2 linked regions of the Homo sapiens genome follow. The protein of the gene in region 2 interacts with the protein of the main gene of each other region in a pairwise test. Each region holds a gene or a part of one and is shown on either strand. Other genes may lie near its edges. The genes, in order: SRR and GOLGA3.

Region 1 (11,569 bases), on a different chromosome or scaffold from region 2:
ATAGGCACAATAAGTAATACATTTCTGCCCAAGTAAGAGCCTTCCCTTTTGTGGATGTAATGAAAATATCTTCAAGCACTTTATAAATAAATTATATGTCTGATACTAGCCTTCCATTGCCTGGATCACATCTGATTGTCCTGGTAATTTGAGAAAAGGGTAGCCCCTTGGTATGGATAGTAGCTTGATGACATGGAATTCAGGGAAAAGACTATGATGGTGTCACTTGTAACTGCTTTTGTGCTGTAAAATTGTCATGGATTAAGAAGAGAGTTGGCTGGGTGCGGTGGCTCACACCTGTAATCCTAGCACTTTGGGAGGCCAAAGTAAGGACTGCTTGAGCCCAGGAGTTCCAGACCAACCTGGCCAACACAGCAAGACCCCATCTCTTAAAAAAAATAAAAATATTAGAAATAATAAATAGGCCGGGCGCAGTGGCTCACGCCTGTAATCCCAACACTTTGGGAGGCCAAGGCGGGTGGATCGCAAGGTCAGGAGTTCAAGACCAGCCTGACCAACATGGTGAAACCCTGTCTCTACTAAAAAAAATACAAAAAAATTAGCGGGGTGTGGTGGCTCATGCCTGTAATCCCAGCTACTCAGGAGGCTGAGACAGGAGAATCGCTTGAACCCGGGAGGTGGAGGCTGCAGTGGGCCAGGATCGTGCCACTGCACTCCAGCCTGGGCAACAGCGAGAATCTGTCTCAAAAAATAATAATAATAGTAAATAGAGTAGTGAGGCAGAGATGGGCCTTCATCTCAAGTCCCAAAGGAATAAGGGGAAGGAATGGTAATGTGTGCAGAATGTTGAGCACGTGTATACAGAACATTTAGGATGTAAAGTAAATCCTCTGCTTGAAGCAGGGAATCCTCCAGAAGCTGCTCACCTTAACTGTAATTGCTATTCCAGCAAGCATTCCTCCTCCACCTACAGGTACCACCAGTGCATCCACCAAAGGAACCTTTAGTGAAAATATAAACTGTAAGCAGTTTTATATTTAATGTATACATATAAAATAATTGAATATAGCCCAACAGCTTTACCAGTAGCTAAACAGGAAGAACTCAGCTATTTTACCTGGTTCAGCACTTCCAGGGCAATTGTCCCTTGTCCAGCTATCACTGCAGGCTCCTGGTTGGGATGTACCATGATGCCTTCTGTTTCTTCTGTAACTCTTTTTGCAACATTTTCTCTGGACTGAAAGTACATTAATTTAGCTTAATTGATTTGTATTTAATAGAGTCCCCAACAAGTTCCATTTGGTCATTCAGCATTTTATTGACCATCTACTTTTTTCACACTTTGTTCAGGTACTAGAGATATATATGTTAATAAAATATCCCTGCCCTCAAGCACGTTATATTGTATGGTAGAGATGGATGAAGTAAATATATGGTATGTCTAAGTGCAATGGAGTAAAATGAAGGAATTTATTTCATATAGGGTAGCCAAGAAGAGCCTCTAGTAAAGTGACATTTTAAAAGATCTGAACAAGTGCTGTGGATGTCTAGAATATTCCAGAGAGGGGGTAACAGTGCAAAGACTACAAAGTAGGAGTGCTTGGCCTTTCTGAGGAACAGCTAAAAAGGTTAGTATGGCTGGCACAGAGTGGGCAAGAGAAATAATAGAAGATGAGGTCAAGGCTGGGTGCAGTGGCTGACACCTATAATCCCAGCACTCTGGGAGGCCAAGGTGGGCAGATCACTTCAGGTCAGGAGTTCAAGACCAGCCTTGCCAACACGGCAAAACCCCGTCTCTACTAAAAATACAAAAATTAGCCAGATGTGGTGGCACGCGCCTGTAATCCCAGCTACTCTGGTGGCTGAGGCATGAGAATCTCTTGAACCCAGGAAGCGGAGGCTGCAGGGAGCTGAGAAGAAACTACCGCACTCCAGCCTGGGTTGGACAGAGTGAGACCCTGTCTCAAAATAAATAAAAAGAAGATGAGGGACCAGGCACGGTGGCTCACACTTGTAATCCCAGCACTTTGGGAGGCCAAGGCGGGCAGATCACGAGGTCAGGAGTTCGAGACCAGCCTGGCCAATATGGTGAAACCCTGTCTGTACTAAAGAATCAAAAATTAGCTGGGCATGGTGGCACGCGCCTGTAGTCCCAGCTACTCGGGAGGCTGAGGCAGAAGAATCGCTTGAACCCAGGAGGCGGAGGTTGCAGTGAGCCGAGATTGTGCCGCTGCACTCCAGCCTGGGAGACGGGGAGATTCTGTCTAAAAAAAAAAAAAAAAAAAAAAAAAGATGAGAGATGAGGTCAGAAAGATAGGAATGTTTGAGTTTATCCAGGGATTAGATGATTGCAAGAACTCTCGTTTCCACCGTGTATGAGATGGGAAACCAACAGAGGATTTAGACTTGAAAAGAGACAAGTTCTGGCCAGGCGTGGTGGCTCACGCCTGTAATCCCAGCACTTTGGGAGGCCGAGGTGGGTGGATCACGAGGTCAGGAGATCGAGACCATCCTGGCTAACACAGTGAAACCCCGTCTCTACTAAAAATAGAAAAAATTAGCTGGGCATGGTGGCAGGCGCCTGTAGTCCCAGCTACTCGGGAGGCTGAGGCAAGAGAATCGCTGGAACCCAGGAGGCGGGGCTTGCAGTGAGCCAAGATGGCACCACTGCACTCCAGCTTGGGCGACAGAGCAAGACTCCGCCTCAAAAAAAAAAAAAAAGAAGAGACAAGTTCTGACTTTATTAAATGGAGACCTCTGGTTGCTCAAAAAAGCCTGTAGTGTGGCAAGGGTGGATGCAGAGAGACCAGTTTGGCTACTGAATTGAATATAGGTGAGAATTGATGTTGGTTTGAATCAGAGTGCTAACGGTAGACACAGAAGCAGTTGGGTTATGGAAATATGTTGAAAGCAGACTGAGATTTGGATGTGGGGTATGAGAGGGTTATCAGAGAGGATTCCTGGCTGTGTGCAGTGGGTCATGCCTGTGATCCCAGCATTTTGGGAGGCCAAGGTGGGAGGACTGCTTGAATCCAGGAGTTTGAGACCAGCCTGGGCAACAGTGAGACCCTGTCTACAAAAAATAAAGGAATTAGGTGTGGTGGCATGCACCTGTAGTCCTAGCTACTCAACAGGCTGAGGCAGAAGGATCCCACAACATAGAAAGAGTCCATCTTTAACAACAACAACAAAAAATTTTCAAAAAAAGATGACTCCAACTTTTTTTTGAGTAACTAGAAGAATAAAAATTGCCATTTACTAAGATGAGGAAGACTGGAAGGGAAGCAATATAGGGAAGTAAGATCAGGAGTTTGGTTTTAGCTGTAGTTTGAGATGCCTTTTAAGACATCAAGTGGGAAAGTTAGGTAGCTGTTATATAAAAGTTGGCTGTTAAAGGGAGAGAAGTTGGAGTTGGTGTTGTTAGACCATAGGTAATAATTTAAGAAATGAGACTAATGAGATCTTGTGAGTGTAGATAGAGAAAAGGTTGAGCATGCTAACAGAAATAAAGGGGAAACCACAAAGGAGGCTGAGAAGGAGCAGCCAGTAAGGTAGAAAGAGCCATTGGTCAAATGAAAGCTGTTAAGGTGGTACCAAGCACTGCTCTCCTTACCTCATCACTAGGTTCACAGTATACAATTGACGCTCCGTAGGCTTGTATTGCAAGTTTTTTACAGTCTGGAGCTGTCTGGGGCACCACAATATAAGCAGGAATTCCTGGGAGAGGAAAACGAGAGGAAAAAGTCAGGAGAATTTAGAATAGAAACTTATGTGGCCAGGCACGGTGGGTCACACCTGTAATCCCAGCACTTTGGGAGGCTGAGGCAGGCGGATCACAAGGTCAGGAAATTGAGACCATCCTGGCTAACACGGTGAAACCCTGTCTTTACTAAAAATACAAAAAAAAAAAAAAAAAAAAAAAATAGCCAGGCATGGTGGCAGGCTCCTGTAGTCCCAGGCTGAGGCAGGACAATGGTGTGAACCCGGGAGGTGGAGCTTGCAGTGAGCCGAGATCCTGCCACTGCATTCCAGCCTGGGCGACAGTGCAAGACTCCGTCTCAAAAAAAAAAAAAAAAAAGAAAGAAACATGTTCAGCCAGGTGTGGTGGCTCACGCCTGTAATCCTAGGACTTTGGGAGGCCAAGGCGGGTGGATTGCTTGAGCCCAGGAGTTCGAGACCAGCCTGGGCAACATGGTGAAATTAGTATTTTGTATTTGTAAAATAGAAAAAATTAGCCAGGCGTGGTGGTGCGCACCTGTAGTCCCAGCTACTCAGGAGGCTGAGGCAGGAGAATCGCTTGAACCCGGCAGGTGGAGGTTACAGTGAGCCGAGATCGCGTCACCGCTCTCCAGCCTGGGTGACAGCAAGATTCTGTCTTCAAAAAAACAAAACAAACAAAAAAAAAACTTATGTTCATATTGCTTGCAATCAGATAGAGATTTCTTTGGAAAGTTACTTCCCACAGCTATCATCACTCTCACTGAAATTAAGGGCACTTTTCCACTCCTTTCTGAAGATCTACCCAGTACCTTGAGAAATCAAGTACCTTCCAATTTGGCAGCATAGGTGAGAGCCTGGCCATGGTTTCCACTGCTGTGAGTAACAACAGCTTTCGGCTTCCTTTCTAAAGCATCAGGAACCAAGCTTCTGACGGCATTGAGAGCACCACGAATCTGAAAAAGAGGGATGGTGAATTCACATATTTGATTAAAACATTGTTTTGGAAAGCAAGGAGCTTTTCTAGATTTTCTATCCTTAACATGCACATCCAATCTGTCACCAAATCTTATCGATTTACCTCTTAAATATCTCATGTGCATCTTTATTTTTTATTTTTTTGAGATGGAGTCTCCGTTATCCCGGCTGGAGTGCAGTGCCACGATCTCGGCTTACTGCAACGTCCGCCTCCCCACACTGCGTCTACCCCCAGGGCCGGGTTCAAGTGATTTTCCTGCCTCAGCCTCCCAAGTAGCTGGGATTATAGGCACCTGCCACCATGCCCGGCTAAATTTTTTTTTTTTATTTTTTTAGACCTAGTCTCGCTCTGTTGTAGCCCGGGCTGCAGTGCAGTGGCGCGATCTCGGCTCACTGCAAGCTCCGCCTCCCGGGTTCACGCCATTCTCCTGCCTCAGCTTCTCGAGTAGCCGGGTCTGCAGGCGCCCGCCACCACGCCCGGCTAATTTTTTTGTATTTTTAGTAGCGACGGGGTTTCCCCGTGTTAGCCAGGATGGTCTCGATCTTTTGACCTCGTTATCCGCCTGCCTCAGCCTCCCAAAGTGCTGGGATTACAGGCGTGAGCCACCGCACCCGGCCTTTTTTTTTTTTTTTTTTTTTTCCCCCGAGATGGAGTCTTCCTCTATCACCCATGGTGGAGTGCAATGGCGTGATCTCAACTCACTGCAACCTCTGCCTTCTGGGTTCAAGCAATTCTCCTGCCTCAGCCTCCCAAGCAGCTGGGATTACAGGTGCCTGGCACCAAGTCCCGCTCATTTTGTATTTTTAGTAGAAAGTGTTTCACCAAGGCTGGGTGCGGTGACTCATGCCAGTAATCCCAGCACTTTGGGAGGCAGAGGCGGGCGGATCACAAGGTCAGATCAAGAACATCCTGGCTAACACGGTGAAACCCTGTCTCTACTAAAAATTCAAAAAAAAAAAAAAAAAAATTAGCTGGGCGTGGTGGCAGGCGCCTGTAGTCCCAGGTAATCGGGTGGCTGAGGCAGGAGAATGGCGTGAACCTGGGAGGTGGAGCTTACAGTGAGCCGAGATCGTGCCACTGCACTCCAGCCTGGGGGACAGAGTGAGACTCCGTCTCAAAACAAAACAAAACAAAACAAAAAAGCGTTTCATCATGTTGGTCAGGCTGGTGTCGAACTCCTGACCTCAGGTGATCCACCTGCCTCAGCCTCCCAAAGTGCTGGGATTACAAGTGTGAACCACTGCGCCTGTCATATATTTGTATTTTTTGTAGACAGAGTTTTGCCGTGTGGCCCAGGCTTAGATCTTTTATATTGATAATGTATCCATGTGTAGCAAGTTGATACAGTGAATGCTTAAACTTGGGTCATATACAGAGTGATAACACTTTCCAATTTGCCTGCAACAGTTCAGGTGTCTGTTTAGATATTTCAGGTTGCTTCTTTCAGTCCCAAACATGTCCTAGTTTGGATAATAAATTATGTCTTAGTTTGGACAGTAAGTGATGGTATATATAATAAAGTCATGCTTTGCTTAAGGATGGGGATATGTTTCGAGAAATGCATGATTTGGCAATTTCATCATCTTGCATGCACCATAGAGTGTACTTATACAAATCCAGCTGTTACAGCCTATTACTCCTAGGCTGCAAACCCTGTATAGCATGTTACTGTACTGAATACTGTAGGCAGCTATAACACAATGAGAAGTATTTCTGTATCTAAACACAGAAATCGTACAGTAAATGTGTGGTATAACCTTATGGGACCAAGGACCACCATCATATAGGTGGTCTGTCATTGACTGAAACGTTATGTGGCATATGACTGTATTTTATGTATATATTATATATATGCACATACATATATATAAAAATTACTCGGATAAGTTATATATATTATCCTAATTATAAGGATTTATGACTGTGTAAAAGTTGCTTATCAACACTATGATGCTAGGTAAAACAAGGACTTGAAAGGAAAATTTCTGTAACCTTTTTTCCAGCTGTATAAAGGCATTAATTTACTTCTGCCTATCTCATTGGGTGGTCAGGAGAATCAAACTGATATGTGAAAGGGTGTGAAAACATACATGATACACTGAGAAAAAGGATTGTTACCTTAAAAGATCCTGTTTTCTGGAAGAGTTCACATTTGAAGAAAAGATTGCGCCCTGTTAGTTGATTCAAAATGGAGCTTGTTAGCACTGGTGTGAGGTGGATAGAATCTCGAATGTTGATATGAGCTTTTTCAACATCAGCAAAGGAGATGCAATACTGAGCACACATGGTTCTGAAACCCAGGAATAAGAAAGGGGTCAAAGCAAAGTCTGAGACAGTATGTTTATTGAAGAGATTTTGAAAATACGTAACAGAATAGACCTGGGGCCTGTGGTGTCATGTGGAAATTCTCCATTATTGGAGTGTCAGAATTTCCCTAAAAGAGAGTTGACTTAAAAGCTGAACGAAGTTTTTCTGGTGAAGCTTTGAGGGAAGTAACTGATGGTGATTACAGAAGGCTAAAGCCCACTCCCCACCCACACCACCCATCTCTTGGCACTGTTGGCACTGCCACTGGTCTCCATCTTCCTTTTTTTTTTTTTTTTTTTGAGACGGAGTCTCGCTCTGTAGCCCAGGCTGGAGTGCAGTGGCACAATCTCGGCTCACTGCAACCTCCGCCTCCCGGGTCAAGCAATTCTCCTGCCTCAGCCTCCCGAGTAGCTGGGATTACAGGAATGTGCCATCGTGCCCAGCTAATTTTTATATTTTTAGTAGACACGGGGTTTCACCATGTTGTCCAGGCTGGTCTTGAACTTCTGACCTCGTGATCCGCCTGCCTCGGCCTCCCAAAGTGCTGGGATTACAGGTGTAAGCCACCGTGCCCAGCTCCACCTTTCTTTTAATCATCGTTGTGAAGCTACTTGAATGAATTGGATTCAATTTTTATATTATTTTTAATTTATAAATTTAAATTTTTAATTTTTAATAAAAATTTAACAAATTATTTGATAAAGAAAAAATAGCTAGACTATTCCATTTAAATAACTATGTTCATTTTCTTTATTTCCCTCTGCATTTTCTTTTTTTTTGTTTTTTGAGATGGTGTTTCACTCCTGTTGTCCCGGCTGGAGTGCACTGGTGCAGTCCTGGCTCACCACAACCTCCACATCCCAGGTTCAAGCGATTCTCCTGCTTCAGCCTCCCGAGTAGCTGAGATTACAGGCATGCACCACCATGCCCAGCTAATTTTTTTTTTTTTTTTTTTTTGAGACAGAGTCTCGCTCTGTCACCCAGGCTGGAGTGCAGTGGCGCGATCTCGGCTCACTGCAAGCTCCGCCTCCCGGGTTCACGCCATTCTCCTGCCTCAGCCTCCCTGGTAGCTGGGACTACAGGCACCTGCCACCATGCCTGGCTAATTTTTTGTATTTTTAGTAAAGACGGGGTTTCACCGTGTTAGCCAGGATAGTCTCAATCTCCTGACCTCGTGATCCGCCTGCCTCGGCCTCCCAAAGTGCTGGGATTACAGGCGTGAGCCACCAAACCCGGCCAATTTTGTATTTTTAATAGAGACGGGGTTTCTCCATGTTGTGCAGGCTGGTCTCGAACTCCCGACCTCAGGTGATCCGCCTGCCTCAGACTCCCAAAGTGCTGGGATTATAGGCGTGAGTCACTGCGCCCGGCTCCTTCTGCATTCTCAATATACATTATGTAACAGTTAAAGCAAACATTTTATTTGCTCCTACATTTGACTCAGTTTCTTTACAATTTTCATAATTTTCAATAACTACATTAAGCTTCCACTTTCCACTGTGTCTATTGTAGCAGTTAAATATGAAGTTTCTCTATTTTTCCTTATTACAAAAGAATCTATATTCATTAGAAAACTGAGTTAATCTGAAAATACAGAGATACAAAAAGAACATGAAAATAGCCACGAAACCTTCCTACCTAAAGACAGTTGCTATCCAGTGGTTTACCTTTCCAGGCCCAACTACATATGCAGACAAAACTCTTTGGTAGGTTTGGTAACTTCTTTTTTTGTCAGACAGTATTATGAATATCAATGAATCTCATAGGTGAGTACATTTATCAACATTTTTTTTTTGTTGTTTTTTTGAGATGGAGTTTCACTGTCACCCAGACTGAAGTGCAGTGGCATGACTGTGGCTCACTGCAACCTCTGCCTCCTGGGTTCAAGCAATTCTCCTGCCTCAACCTCCTGAGTTGCTGGCATTACAGGCGCCCACCACCACACCCAGCTAATTTTTATATTTTTCGTAGAGGCGGGGTTTCACCATGTTGGCCAGGCTGGTCTTGAACTCCTGATCTTAGGTGATCCGCCCGCCTCGGCCTCCCAAAGTGCTGGTATTACAGGCGTGAGCCACCACGCCCGGCCCATTTATCCAACTTTTTTTTTTTTTTTGAGAGAGTCTTGCTCTGCCGCCAGGCTGGAGTGCGGTGGCGCCATCTCAGCTCACTGCAACCTCTGCCTCCCAGGTTCAAGCGATTCTCCTGCCCTAGCCTCCCTAGTAGCTGGGATTACAGGCGCCTGCCACCACACCCAGCTAATTTTTTTATTTTTAGTGGAGACAGGGTTTCACCATGTTGGCCAGGCTAGTCTCGAACTCCTGACTTCAGGCAATCCACCTGGCTCAGCCTCCCAAAGTGCTGGGATTACAGGCGTGAGCCACTGCGCCCGGCTTTATCCAACTTTTAAAATGACTTAATAGTACTTCTTTTACAAAAATACAATAATTTAGCTGGGGGCAGTGACACACACTGGTAGTCCCGGCTACTTGGGAGGCTAAGGCGGGAGGCTTGCTTGAGCCCGGGAGTGTGTTATTATCACGTCTATGAATAGCCACTGTACTGTGGCCTGGGCAACATAAGCAGGACCCTATCTCTTGAAAAAGAAAAAATAATAATTTTAAGTTTACATAGCTCAAATGAACATTTGGATTTCCTTTTGTTGTTGTTGGCTGTAAGAATGATGTAATGAATAGCCTTGTTGCAAGATTTTTGTGTACCTCCGTCAGTCCTTAGGGTAGATTTCACCAAATGGTATTTTGTATCAAAAGGCATACATATTTCTAAGAAATCTGATACCCACTGCCAAACTGATCTCCAGAAGGGTCCTATATTACATCAATTTGTACTCCCAACAACAGTTTTGATGGAATGATGCCTCTTTTCCTTCATCCGTCCTATATCATTTTTATGTCAATTTAGTTATGTCTAGTAGTTGTTGTTTCTTTGAGACGGAGTCTTGCTCTGTTGCCCAGGCTGGAGTGCAGTGGTGGGATCTTGGCTCACTGCAACCTCCACCTCCCAGGTTCAAGTGATTCTCCTGCCTCAGCCTCCCGAGTAGCTGGGACTACCGGTGTGTGCCACCACGCCAGGCTAATTTTTTGTATTTTTAGTAGAGACAGGGTTTCACTGTGTTAGCCAGGATGGTCTCGATCTCCTGACTTCGTGATCCACCTGCCTCAGACTCCCAAAGTGCTGAGATTACAGGTGTGAGCCACTGTGCCTGGCAATGTCTAGTAGTTTTAATTTACATTAATTACTAGTGATTGAACATTTTTTTGTGTATCTTGGCCACTTGTTCTTTTCTCAGTCTTTTTTTTTTTTTTTTAGATAAGGTCTCACTCTGTTGTCCAGGCTGGTGTACAGTGGCTCAATTATGGCTCCCTGCAGCTTCAAACTCTTGAGCTCAAGTGATCTTCCCGCCTCAGCCTCCCAAGTACCTGGGACTATGACTGTGCACCACCATACCCAGCTAATTTTTTAAATTTTTATTTTAGTAGAGAGGAAGTCTTGCTGTGTTGCCCAGGCTGGTCTCAAACCCCTGAGCTCAAGTGATCCTTCCGCCTTGGCCTTCCAAAGTGCTGGGATTACAGGCATGAGGCACCACACCCAGCCTTCTTAACACACCATTTACTGACAGAATCCTTTTCCTCTGAAATGCTCTATTTATCAAAAATTAAATTTCTATGAATGGTTGGGGCTATTGTATTTTGTTCCATTGGCCAGACTGCCAATGTCTTTTCCTATTATATACTGTATTAATAAATTCTCCCTTGATTGCTCTAAAATTCATTGGCTTTTCTCACATATCAATTCTTTCAGGTGAACTAGAATTACTTTATCAAAGTTGCCAGAAATTCCATTGTAAAGATGTATAAATGAATTGGAGGCATTATTTATTTACTGAGACGGGGTCTCTTGTCGTCCAGGCTGGAGTGCATTGGCATGATCTCAGCTCACTGCAACCTCTGCCTCCCAGGCTCAGGCAATCCTCTCACCTCAGCCTCCTGAGTAGCTGGGACCACAGGTGCACTGTGCCACCACAAATACAAAAAACGTCTGTATTTTTTGTAGAGACAAGGTTTTGCCATGTTGCCCAGGCTGGTCTTGACCTTCTGAGCTCAAGTGATCCACCCACCTTGGCCTCCCAAAGTGCTGGGATTACAGGCGTGAGCCACCATGACGGGCCCGAAAACTCAATATTTTTTAATGTCAATTATGCCCCCTCGGCTGGGCACAGTGGCAGGAGGATTGCTTAAACCCAGGAGTTCAAGGCTGCAGTGAGTTATTGTACCACTGCAAGAGCAAGACCCTGTCTCTTAAAAACAAAAAAACAAGAGAACAAAAAATAGTTGGCTGGGCGTGGTGGCTCTTGCCTGTAATCCCAGCACTTTTGGAGGCCAAAGCAAGTGGATCACTTGAGATCAGGAGTTCAGGAGTTTGAGACCAGACTGACTAACATAGTAAAATCCCGTCTCCATTAAAAAAACAAAAATTGGCCGGGCGTGGTGGGTCACGCCTGTAATCCCAGCACTTTGGGAGGCTGAGGTGGGAAGATCACAAGGTCAGGAGATCGAGACCATCCTGGCTAACATGGTGAAACCCTGT
Region 2 (11,569 bases):
GGATGACAGTCAGAAAATCGAGACCATCCTGGCTAACACAGTGAAACCTTGTCTCTACTAAAAATATGAAAAATTAGCTGGGCGCGGTGGTGCACGCCTGTAGTCCCAGCTATACCAGAGGCTGAGGCAGGAGAATCGCTTGAACCCGGGAGGCAGGGAGCCGCGATCGTGCCACTGCACTCCAGCCTGAGAGACAGAGTGAGACTCCGTATTACTAACAACAACAACAACAAAAAAATGGAACATGGTGGCTGGGAACTCAAAAACTACATACAAATCAGGGGCTGCAGCCGGGTACAAAAAGAACAGAAGTGGTGGGAACTAGGGCAAAATATGGAACTAAGATGGGATAGTCAACACCAGCAGCTCGATTTGGCCCCCAGGATTTCCCTGAAATGCCCAGCCTAGTCCTCAATTCAGAGAGGCTGTGGAGACTAAGTAGCTGAGTGAGAACCAGGTCAGGGTTCAAGTCCCAGTTCTGAATTGTGTGAACCTCTTGTTAAGTGCCCCCTACAAACAATGTCACCGTCTGGGACTGGAACTCAGCCACACCCACATGGAAGGTCTACCCCTCAACTAAGCAGGTCTGCCCCCCAACTAAGCAGGTCTGCCCCCCGACTAAGCAGGTCTGCCCCTCAACTAAACAGGTGAACTGAGCACACGCAGGGGCTCCAGCCTCACCTCAGAGAGCCCAGCCCTGCACCAACAGCTGGGGACTCAGGGCTGTGGGTCACCCAGACCCCTGAGCCTGTTCCTCCCCTCGGAGAGCCCAGCCCTGCACCAACAGCTGGGGACCCAGGGCCGTGGGTCACCCGGACTCCTGAGCCTGTTCTCTCGGCTGCAGGCCGGGTGGGCTAGGAGTCAGCACAGGTGACTGAATCTGGATGAGATTCTCGGAGTGCGCACAGCCCCACCAACTCTCACACCGTTGCTGGCGTGAGTTTGACGAGTTTGAATACCTGAAGGTTCAACTGGACTAGGTCTGCCTCCCTCTTGGCCAAAGCTGTTTCTAGGATGCTGTTGTGTTCCCGCAGAGCTGCGTTGGACTGACCGAGGCCCGTAAGCTTCCCTTTCTCGTGCTCTAATTCAAGAGCCAACTTCTTGTTTGACTCCTCAAGGCGTTTTATCTTCTTCCTAAAGCCTCTGGATTCTTGAAGCTGAAACATACCAATGTCACTGTAAAATTACCTGCACTGGTGAGTGGAGTTCACATACCCCAGAAACAGGTGAGTTTTCAACAAGAAACAGCGAAAACTTAGGCCAGGCGCAGAGGCTCACGCCTGTAATCACAGCACATTGGGAGGCCGAGGCAGGGGGATCACCTGAGGTCAGGAGTTTGAGACCAGCCTGGCCAACATGGTGAAACCCCGTCCCTACTGAAAATACAAAAATTAGCCACTATCGTGGCACATGCCTTTAGTCCCAGCTACTCAGGAGGCTGAGGCAGAAGGATCGCTTGAACCCAGGAGGTGGAGGTTGCAGTGAGCTGAGATTGTGCCCCTGCACTCCAGCCTGGGCAACACAGCGAGACTCTGTCTCAAAAAAAAAAAAAAAAAGAAAAAGAAAAGAAAAGAAACATCGAAAACTAAAACACAGCAATGGGCTGGACGCAGTGACTCACACCTGTAATCCCAGCACTTTGGGAGGTCAGGGGTTTGAGACCAGCCTAGCCAACATGATGAAACCCTGTCTCTACCAAAACTACAGAAATTATCCAGGTGTGGTGGCGATCACCTGTAGTTCCAGCTACTCAGGAGAATGAGGCGGGAAAATCACTTGAACCTGGGAAGTGGAGGCTGTGGTGAGCCAAGATTGTGCACTCCAGCCTGAATGACAGAGTGAGACTCTGTCTCAAGACAACAAAAACAAAGAACAATGGACACCACACAACCCTGCGATGGACACCACAGGACCGTGCTTGCTTCATGATCTGAAGGCTGTCGTGGTCATGGTCAGTTGCTTCCCCAGGCCCCTCTCATTCCTCCCCATGGCCAAGAGCCCAGCCTTCTCCTGGGGCCATGGGCTTCTGGAGAAGTCTGTCCAGGCACTGAGCCCTGGCTAGGCCACTCAGCAGGGTGGGCATGAGCAAAACCACTTCAGGGCAGGACACAGCCAGAGAGTGGAACAGGCGGCCCTACTGTGACGGAGCTCCACAGGGAGGGGCTGGGGAGTGGGGGGCGCCGGGACACTGAGCTGCCACCAGCAGCGCTGAAGCGAGAACTGTCTCTGAACCTGAGATATCTGACGTTTTTCTTTTTTTGAGACGGAGTCTCACTCTGTCGCCCAGCCTGGAGTGCAGTGGCGCGATCTTGGCTCACTGCAACCTCCGCTCCTGGGTTCAAGCGGTTTACCTGCCTCAGCCACCCAAGTAACTGGGACTACAGGCACCCGCCACCACACCCGGCTAATTTTTGTATTTTTAGTAGAGATGGGGTTTCACCATGTCGGCCAGGCTGGTCTCGAGCTCCTAACCTCATGATCCGCCCACCTCAGCCTCCCAAAGTGCTGGGATTACAGGCATGAGCCACTCGCCTGGCGAAGTTGGGTTTCTTATTTGCAACCAAAGCATTTGAACTGAGAAGGGTTCCACTATGAATTCTGTAACCATTCCACCAAAGAGGCTGTACAGTGATCCTCCCCAGAGGGCTGGAATCAGGGCCTGCCCCACCACAGAGCCAGAGGCCGACGGTCAGAAGGTGGCAACACCAAAAGTAGCAACGCTGGGCACACGGTGAAGTTTTGTTCTTCGGGTCTCACGCGTGGCGGCATGTCCAGGGCTCACGTGACCTGCCCCACGCTGCCGCCACAGCAGATGGCCAGGCCTCACCTCGTCCTCCAGCTCCAGCACCTTCTCCCGGGACTCCTCCAGCTCCTGGCTGGTCAGCGCTATGACCTCCTGCAGTTCCTTTTCCAGCAGCGTCTTGCTATGACTGACAGCCTGCAGCTCCGCCTCCAGGGCCTGGATCCTTTCCTAAGGGCCAAGATGGAACGGGCGCTTGGTCATGGGACAGGCCCTGACCCCCCTCACTTCCTGTGGTGCCGGCAGGCATGAGGCTGTGTGGCTGCACACACCAGACACCAGCTGTCTGACACAGTCTCACAACCTTCCTTTTTGTTAAAGAAGTTGAATTAACCGACCACAGCATGCACACGATGACACACGGGGATAGTTGGGACAAACAAAATCATCTCTTCAGTTCAATGCTTCAAAAATACAGAAGAAAATCTGACCTGCAGATAATGGCTATAAATCACCATCTGTGGCAAGCAAGCAGCACCAGTTGTAATAAATACCACACACATGCTCACGCACCACACATCACATACACACACTCATGTAACACACACCACGTGCACATGTTCACATCCCACACACCACACACACACGTGCTCACACCCCACACGCACATGCTCACACCCCACGTGTTCACACCCCACACCACACATGCACATGTGCTCACACCTCACACTGCATGCACACATACACCCCACACTGCATGCACACATATGCTCACATCCCACACACCATGCACACAAACACTCCACACGCTGCACACACACATGCTCACACCTCACACATGCACGGATACATGCAGGCACAGGTGTGCTCTCACACCCCGCCCACTTGCTGCCTCGATGGTACCAGGCCCTTGCCAAGCATGTTCCAGTACCACCTAACTTAACCCTTACATGAGAAGGTTCTCATTCACCTCAATTTGGCCTCATTTTGCTGAGGATCAAAAAGGTGAGAAATTTGCCAAAAGTCACCACTTGCGAGGGGTGAAGCCCGGACGGACACAAGACATCGGCTCGCAGCTGTGCTATTCCTCAGCTGCAACAGCGTGGCGAGGGGCCAGCTCTGCCCGGCCTTTGCGACCTCCCCACCCCAGCCCTTAGTGAGCCCAAAGAAAATGGCAACTGAATCAATCTCCCCAACATTTTACAAAGCAACCAGGTGAGAGGAAGCACTTGATTTATTTATTGAATTTCAGACACAGAGTCTCTATCGCCCGGGCTGGAGTGCAGCAGCAAAATCATGACTCACTGCAGTTTCAGCCTCACCTCCCAGGCTGAGGCGATCCTCCCACCTCAGTGTCTCAAGCATCTGTGTCCACAGGCACGTGCTACCATGCCTGGGTTTTATTTTTGTATTATTTGTAAATACAGGGTCTAATTATGTTGCCCAGGCTGGTCTCAAACTCCTGTGCTCAAGCGATCCTCCTGCCTCAGCCTCCCAAAGCGCTGGGATTATAGGTGTGAGCCACCGTGCCCGGCCGAGTTTATTTGACAAGAAAACCCCACGTTATGATACAGTCTCTTCCTACCCATAAATTCTTAAGTGGACAGGAGATAGAAACAAACCACATATAAGAAGAAATACTAAGTTGTCAGTGCAAGGACGTGAATTGGAGAATAATAAATAAAATGCGGATGAACTCACTCAGGTAGAATGTTATGCCTACCACGAAAGGTGACAGAGCACGGAGGGCCACGGCCTCCACGGAAGGCTCTGCTCAGAGCCCTCCAGAAAGGGCACCCGCTTGTTCTGGGCCACCGCAGCATGGCTACCTCTAAACGCTCCCTGAACCCTGTCAATCGCTGACCCCATGCCCTCACTCCTGCTTCTCAGTGAGTGCGGAGGCTGCTTTTCCTCCTGAGATGCGAGGAGGCGCAGAGGCAGCTGGAACGCGAGCGGACCAGGGCAGGCCCTCCCTCTGCCCCAAGGGAGCAGCTGAACTTCTCTGAGCCAAGGAGATTTCTTGAGGAAAATCAGGTGAACGCCACAGGCCACAGGCCATGTGGGGTTCATGAGGGAGACGCGAGGCAATGCTCAGTCACTGTGGGTTCCTGGTAACCTGGAAGATGAGCGGGAGTTTAGAGAGTTGCCACCTCCCACGCGAGCTCGGCCCCGCTAGGCTTTAGGGGACAACTGCTGATGGAGAGCCCTTCCCTGCACTGAGGGGCTGGTGACCCTGGCCGGGGATGGCACGGTGTTACCTACATGTAGAGCCAGGCTGCTGTCACTGCTGCCACCCTGGGCTCGGAGCTGGCCCAGCTCCGCGTCCGCAGCCTCCTTGGCCGCGAGGGCCTCCTGCAGGCGGCGGCTGAGGATGCCCACGGCGTTCTCGTAGGCCTTATGTTTGGTCTTCATCTCCTTCTGGGCGCTGGTCAAGTCTGAGCCCAGCCGCCTCATCTTCTGCTTCTGTTCCGTGATGGCCCTGGGGTGTCATGAGGGAGACACAGGAGGAAGCTGAATTATCCCGATGTGACCGTCTGGCATTCTGGTTCGCCTCCCCCCCGGCCCCCGCACCTCCCACCTGGCCCCCGCACCTCCCCCGGGCACATGCAGACTTACTTCCGGGCCTCTTGCTGCAACTCTTCGATTTGTTTCTTCAGCGCCTCATTGGCCTCTGTGACCGCGACCATCTGCTCCTTATCGAACTGCAACGACTGTGGAAGGGAAGGAGGGCGTGAGGAGCGGCACTGCCACCCCCAGCCTGTCTCCCCTTCCTGGCTCCAGCCCATCACCCCCACCAAAGGCACTGCTCAGGCTCGCCCTGGAGGACTTGGGCCTTGAGAAAAATCCTGAGAGAGACGTCTGCCTTCTTACAAACCACTCTTTTTTTTTTTTATTGAGATGGAGTCTCACTCTGTCACCCAGGCTGGAGTGCAGGGGCGTGATCTCAGCTCACTGCAACCTCCGCCTCCCAGGTTCAAGTGATTCTCCTGCCTCAGCCTCCCGAGTGGCTGGGACTACAGGTGCCCGCCACCATGCCCAGCTAATTTTTGTATTTTTAGTAGAGACAGGGTTTCACCATATTGGTCAGGCTAGTCTTGAACTCCTGACCTCGTGATCCACCTGCCTCGGCCTCCCAAAGTGCTGGGATTACAGGTGTGAGCCACTGCACCCGGCCACAAACCACTCATTACTGAGACCAACAAGCGTTTCCAAACACTGTCCAGAGCATCAGAGGCACAACAGGACATGACTGGTTCATAGGAAAGCCTGTGGACCCAGGACCTCTCCTCCAAACCCTCAGGACCCAGGACCCCTCCCCAGGGCCCCAGGAACCCTCCCCAAGGCCTAGGACCCCTCCTCAAGGATCCAGACCCCTCCTAGGAAACCCCAGGACCCCTCCCCAAGAGCCCCCGGGAACCCTCCCCACAAGCCCCTGGATCCCCTCCCCACAGTCCCCAGACCCCTCCCCCAGAGCCCCCAGGACCCTTCCTGAGACCCCGGGACCCCTCCCCAGAACCCCTGGGACCCTTCCCCGGAGACCCCGGGACCCCTCCCCGGAGACCACGGGACCCCTCCCCGGAGACCCCGGGACCCCTCCCCGGAGACCCCGGGACCCCTCCCCGGAGACCCCGGGACCCCTCCCCGGAGACCCCGGGACCCCTCCCCGGAGACCCCGGGACCCCTCCCCGGAGACCACGGGACCCCTCCCCGGAGACCACGGGACCCCTCCCCGGAGACCCCGGGACCCCTCCCCGGAGACCCCGGGACCCCTCCCCGGAGACCCCGGGACCCCTTCCCGAGACCCCAGGACCCTTCCTGAGACCCCAGGACCCTTCCCTGGACCCCCCCCGGATGCCCTCCTCAGGATCAACTGTGAACACTGAGGGCCGCGTCCCCGACCTGCTCCTGCCCTCGCAGCCTTTCCCCAGCTCCTGTGTGCGAGGCGAGTCCCCACAACCAGCCCAGGCCTGCAGCTGTGGGGTCCGAACGTGCTCTGCCCGCACTGCTGAGTCCTCCAAGCCTCCTACAGTCCAAAGAGCCGGCCCTCCCCTTGGCCCACCTCCCCACCCCGGCACCAGCGCTAATCCATCAGCCCTCACTTTCCAACAATGATGGTGCCGGCCACACCGCCTACTCACAGGCCTCAGCCTGGCTCCTAATGAGCCAGACATGCTGACCAATCTGCCTGCTGGGACCTTGGCTCGGTCCTCTCCGGCAACTTCAGAAACTTCATAAGCAAAACGTAGCACTTGGTCTAACGTGCCATCAGACGACTCTCCCCAAATTTACTGTTGCTCTCCTGATTTCTCGTCTCACCTCCCGGTTCCTCAGCCTGGATGTCTGGACAGGATCCTGGACTGCGGCCTCCGTCCCCCGCCTCTACCCCTCACCTGCTCTGCTACCTGCAGCCGAGAAACTGTCACCAGCATCTCGGACACCCACTGTGTGCAGAAGCCAGCCCAGGCTCAGCTTCCACAGGAACATGACTAGCTCTGGTCAGTCCCAGCTCCGCACTCAGCCACGAGGGACTCCCAGGGTCCCCGGGCCCCGACGCCCTGCCCTGACGTGGGGTCTCCACAAAACACTCACCCTTGCTTTCTGCATGACAGCCGCTGTCCTCTCACATGCTAGATCCCGGGAGCCCATGGCAATGGGGAGAAGCTGGGTGCCTCACGGGGCCTCCTCACTCCCTCCCTTCATGCACCATCACCACCTGGACTTATCAGGCCTCACCGGACTGCCCCTCTGGGACCTATGCTCCAGGTGGGCCTTGTTCCCAGCTGTTCTTCCAAAAGCCTCTCCCACCTTGGCCCCACCCCAGACACAGGCCCCGACCCAGACAGACCCCGCCCCAGACACAGGCCCCGCCCCAGACACAGGCCCCACCCTCCCGACAAGCACTTTGGCCGAATCCTCCCCATCAAATGAGTCAACCCGACACGGACAGACCTGCAAGTGTGTTTCCATCTCGTCTCGCTCCTTCTGCGCCGACTGGAGATGCCCTTCAAGGTCCGCCATGTGCTGACGGACCTGGGCCACCTCTCTGTGCAGGCGCGAGAGCTCCGCCTCGGCAGTCCGCTTCTCCCCGTGCACTTGCATCAGCTCCTGCCGCAGCTCCTTCAGCTCCGAGTCCAGCCTCTTCCTGGTGGCTTTCAGCTCACTGATGAGCTGGTCTTTGGAGGTGGCGTCGCGCCGGTAGGCCTCCACCATCACCTGCCAAAGACAGAGGCTGTGAGCGGACGCTGGGCGGCGGGGCGTGGGGGGCGTACCTGGGGGTCAAGCTGGCTTCAACAAAAATGTTTACCACTTATCGGGGGCATAACTTTTTTGAGGTAAAGATACATTTCATCAAATCTAAGACTCCATCGACTGAGACACACCACTGTTTATCCACAGGTGACATCACTGCCTGTTGAGAGACTGCGTGGTGCACAAGGCAGTCACACCGGCCTCATAGACGTCTCCTCTATTCCAAGGAGTCTGGCTCTCTCCTGACTTCAGTTGCACGGCTTTGCTTCCAACAGGTAATCCCCTTGCTTGTGGCTCAGTAATAAAGCAAAGCAGGACTCACGACACCGCTTCAGGGGCCGCCCTTGCTCAGAAATAAAATACAGCAGGCCGGGCGCGGTGGCTCACACTTGTAATCCCAGCACTCTCAGAAATAAAATACAGCAGGCCGGGCGCGGTGGCTCACACTTGTAATCCCAGCACTCTGGGAGCCCGAGCTGGCTGATCACCTGAGGTCAGGAGTTCAACCAGCCTGGCCAACAAGGTGAAAACCCCATCTCTACTAAAAATACAAAAAACTAGCCAGGCGTGGTGGTGCATGCTTGTAGTCCCAGCTACTCACGAGGCTGAGGCATGAGAATCATTTGAACCTGGCAGTTGGAGGTTGCAGTGAGCGGAGACAGCACTACTGCACTCCAGCCCGGGCGACACAGCCAGACTCTGTCTCAAAAAAACTAAATTACAGGCCGGGCGTGGTGGCTCATGCCTGTAATCCCAGCACTTTGGGAGGCCAAGGTGGGCGGATCACGAGGTCAGGAGATTGAGACCATCCTGGCTAACACGGTGAAACCCCGTCTCTACTAAAAATGCAAAAAAAAATTAGTCGGGCGTGGTGGCCGGTGCCTGTAGTCCCAGCTACTCAGGAGGCTGAGGCAAGAGAATGGCGTGAACCTGGGAGGCGGAGCTTGCAGTGAGCCGAGATCGCACCACTGCCCTCCAGCCTGGGGTACAGAGCGAGACTTCATCTCAAAAATAAAATAAAATAAAATACAGCAGCGCTCACAACGCTGCTTCAGGGGTCACCCTCGCTCAGAAATAAAACACAGCAGCACTCACAATATAGCTTCGGGGTCACCCTTGCTCAGATCCCATAAAATCCAACAGGAGGTACTGGCTTCACTGACACAAAATTTATATTCCGTGTCTTTTTGGATAACCAAAATTTGTTTCAATGCTGGAACTCTATGTGCATTTTTCAAAGACATTTTAAATGGCAAACCCAACCTGTGTGTTAACAACACTGCACAACACACAGCTCCCTGGAGTGAGCACAACAGGGTATGCTGACAGGCGCTCCAGTGACAGCCGCCCCTGGAGATCTGAGGGGCCAAGACCCCCACCCCACTGTGGAAGTGTGTCTTGACTTTGCAGATTAAGTACCTTTAAAAAAAGTTAAAGAGGGCCGGGCGCGGTGACTCATACCTGTAATCCCAGCACTTTGGGAGGCCGAGGAGGGTGGATCACCTGAGGTCAGGAGATTGAGACCATCCTGGCTAACACGGAGAAACCCCATCTCAAAATACAAAAAACAAAAAATTAGCCGGACGTGGTGGAGGGCGCCTGTAGTCGCAGCTACTCGGGAGGCTGAGGCAGGAGAATAGCTTGAACCCGGGAGGCAGAGCTTGCAGTGAGCCAAGATCGCGTCACTGCACTCCAGCCTGGCTGACAGAGAGAGACTCCGTCTCAAAAAAAAAAAAAAAAAAAAAAAAAAAAAAAAAAAAATTTAAAGAGAACTCAAGATGTTACCTTCTTCTCAACTTCAATGACATTGGAATTGCTAAGCAATTAAACCACAGAAAACTCTGTTCATATGCTTGTTTCAAGTGAAGAAATCAACAACAGATTTTTACCTTTTGTTGGAGAAACTGTTCCTTTATTTTTTGCATTTGCTTTTTCAGAGCAGCAGTCTCCTGCTGCAGGTGTTCCACCTGTGGGAGACATGTGCACAGACATTACACTGACGGCTCCAGGAGGGGAATCTGTCTGCACAGATGTTACACTGAAGCCTCCAGGAGGGGAACACATCTGCACAAATGTTACAGAGAGCTCCAGGAGGGGACACATCCTCACAGATGTTACACTGAGGGCTCCAGGAAAGGACACATCTGCAGAGATGTTTCACTGAGGGCTCCAGAAGGGGCCACATCTGCAGCGATGTTACACTGAGGGCTCCAGAAGGGGCCACATCTGCAGCGATGTTACACTGAGGGCTCCAGGAAAGGACACATCTGCAGAGTTGTTACACTGAGGACTATAGGAGGGGAATGTGTCTGCACAGATGTTACACTGAGGGCTCCAAGAGGGGGATGCATGTGCATGAATATTACACTGAGGGCTACAGCAGGGGGACACATCTACACAGATGTTACACTGAGGGCTCCAGGAGGGGCCACATCTGCAGAGATGTTACACTGAGGGCTCCAGAAGGGGCCACATCTGCAGCGATGTTACACTGAGAGCTCCAGGAAAGGACACATCTGCAGAGTTGTTACACTGAGGGCTCCAGAAGGGGACACATCTGCAGAGATGTTACACTGAGGGCTCCAGGAAAGGACACATCTGCAGAGTTGTTACACTGAGGACTATAGGAGGGGAATGTGTCTGCACAGATGTTACACTGAGGGCTCCAAGAGGGGGATGCATGTGCATGAATATTACACTGAGGGCTACAGCAGGGGGACACATCTACACAGATGTTACACTGAGGGCTCCAGGAGGGGGATGCAACTACACAGACATTACACTGATGGCTCCAGGAGGGCACACATCTGCACAGATGTTATAGGAAGAAGCACTTGTGTTCTGACGGGAACTGGTGGTTCCTAAGGCCTGGGCTCTCCCTCCTCACCACTGACAGCATGAAGGCACAGTGAGTGGCAGGGAGGTGGGAGAGGGGATGAGGCCAGGGGACACTGCAGCCCAGGGCTCGGCAAGCCTTTCTTGGAGATGCCTGATGGGAAAAGACTGCAGCTCACAGGCTGCACGTCAGTCACAGCTGCTCAGCAATGCTCTTGCAGCACAGGCGAGCGAGCAGGGCTGTTACAGTGACAGTTTACAGAACCCGGTGTTGGGCTGCGCCCACAGGCTGAGGGTGCTGACCCCAGGCTCTGGTCCTTGTCCTGCAAAGTCTGTTGGAGCCCAGCCCATTCAGCCCAGGAGCTTGTGAGAAATGCAGAGCCTCGGGCCCCACACAGACCCACCGCACAGGACCTGCACTCAGAGGGCTCCACACAGACCCACCCCACGGGACCTGCACTCCGAGGGCTCCACACAGACCGACCGCACGGGACCTGCACTCGGAGGGCTCCACACAGACCCACCACACGGGATCTGCACTCGGAGGGCTCCACACGGACCGACCGCACGGGACCTGCACTCGGAGGGCTCCACACGGACTGACCGCACGGGACCTGCACTCGGAGGGCTCCACACGGACCCACCCCACGGGATCTCCACTCGGAGGGCTCCACACGGACCGACCACACGGGACCTGCACTCGGAGGGCTCCACACAGACCCACCACACGGGATCTGCACTCGG

Evidence for each region.
Region 1: the proteins of GOLGA3 (region 2) and SRR interact in a two-hybrid assay, tested with the Homo sapiens proteins (one study listed by BioGRID).

What each region holds. Positions count from the first base shown.
Region 1 is NC_000017.11:2,310,935-2,322,503, reverse strand, and holds part of SRR (serine racemase), read right to left. Parts: intron 6,948-11,569; 5' UTR 6,944-6,947; coding exon 6,776-6,943; intron 4,635-6,775; coding exon 4,508-4,634; intron 3,679-4,507; coding exon 3,575-3,678; intron 1,199-3,574; coding exon 1,079-1,198; intron 963-1,078; coding exon 888-962; intron 109-887; exon of another isoform or gene 1-108. UniProt on the Homo sapiens protein: Catalyzes the synthesis of D-serine from L-serine. D-serine is a key coagonist with glutamate at NMDA receptors. Has dehydratase activity towards both L-serine and D-serine.
Region 2 is NC_000012.12:132,781,337-132,792,905, forward strand, and holds part of GOLGA3 (golgin subfamily A member 3), read right to left. Parts: intron 9,958-11,569; coding exon 9,880-9,957; intron 7,955-9,879; coding exon 7,691-7,954; intron 5,452-7,690; coding exon 5,357-5,451; intron 5,220-5,356; coding exon 5,003-5,219; intron 2,972-5,002; coding exon 2,828-2,971; coding exon of another isoform or gene 2,690-2,827; exon of another isoform or gene 2,532-2,689; intron 1,158-2,531; coding exon 960-1,157; intron 1-959. UniProt on the Homo sapiens protein: Golgi auto-antigen; probably involved in maintaining Golgi structure.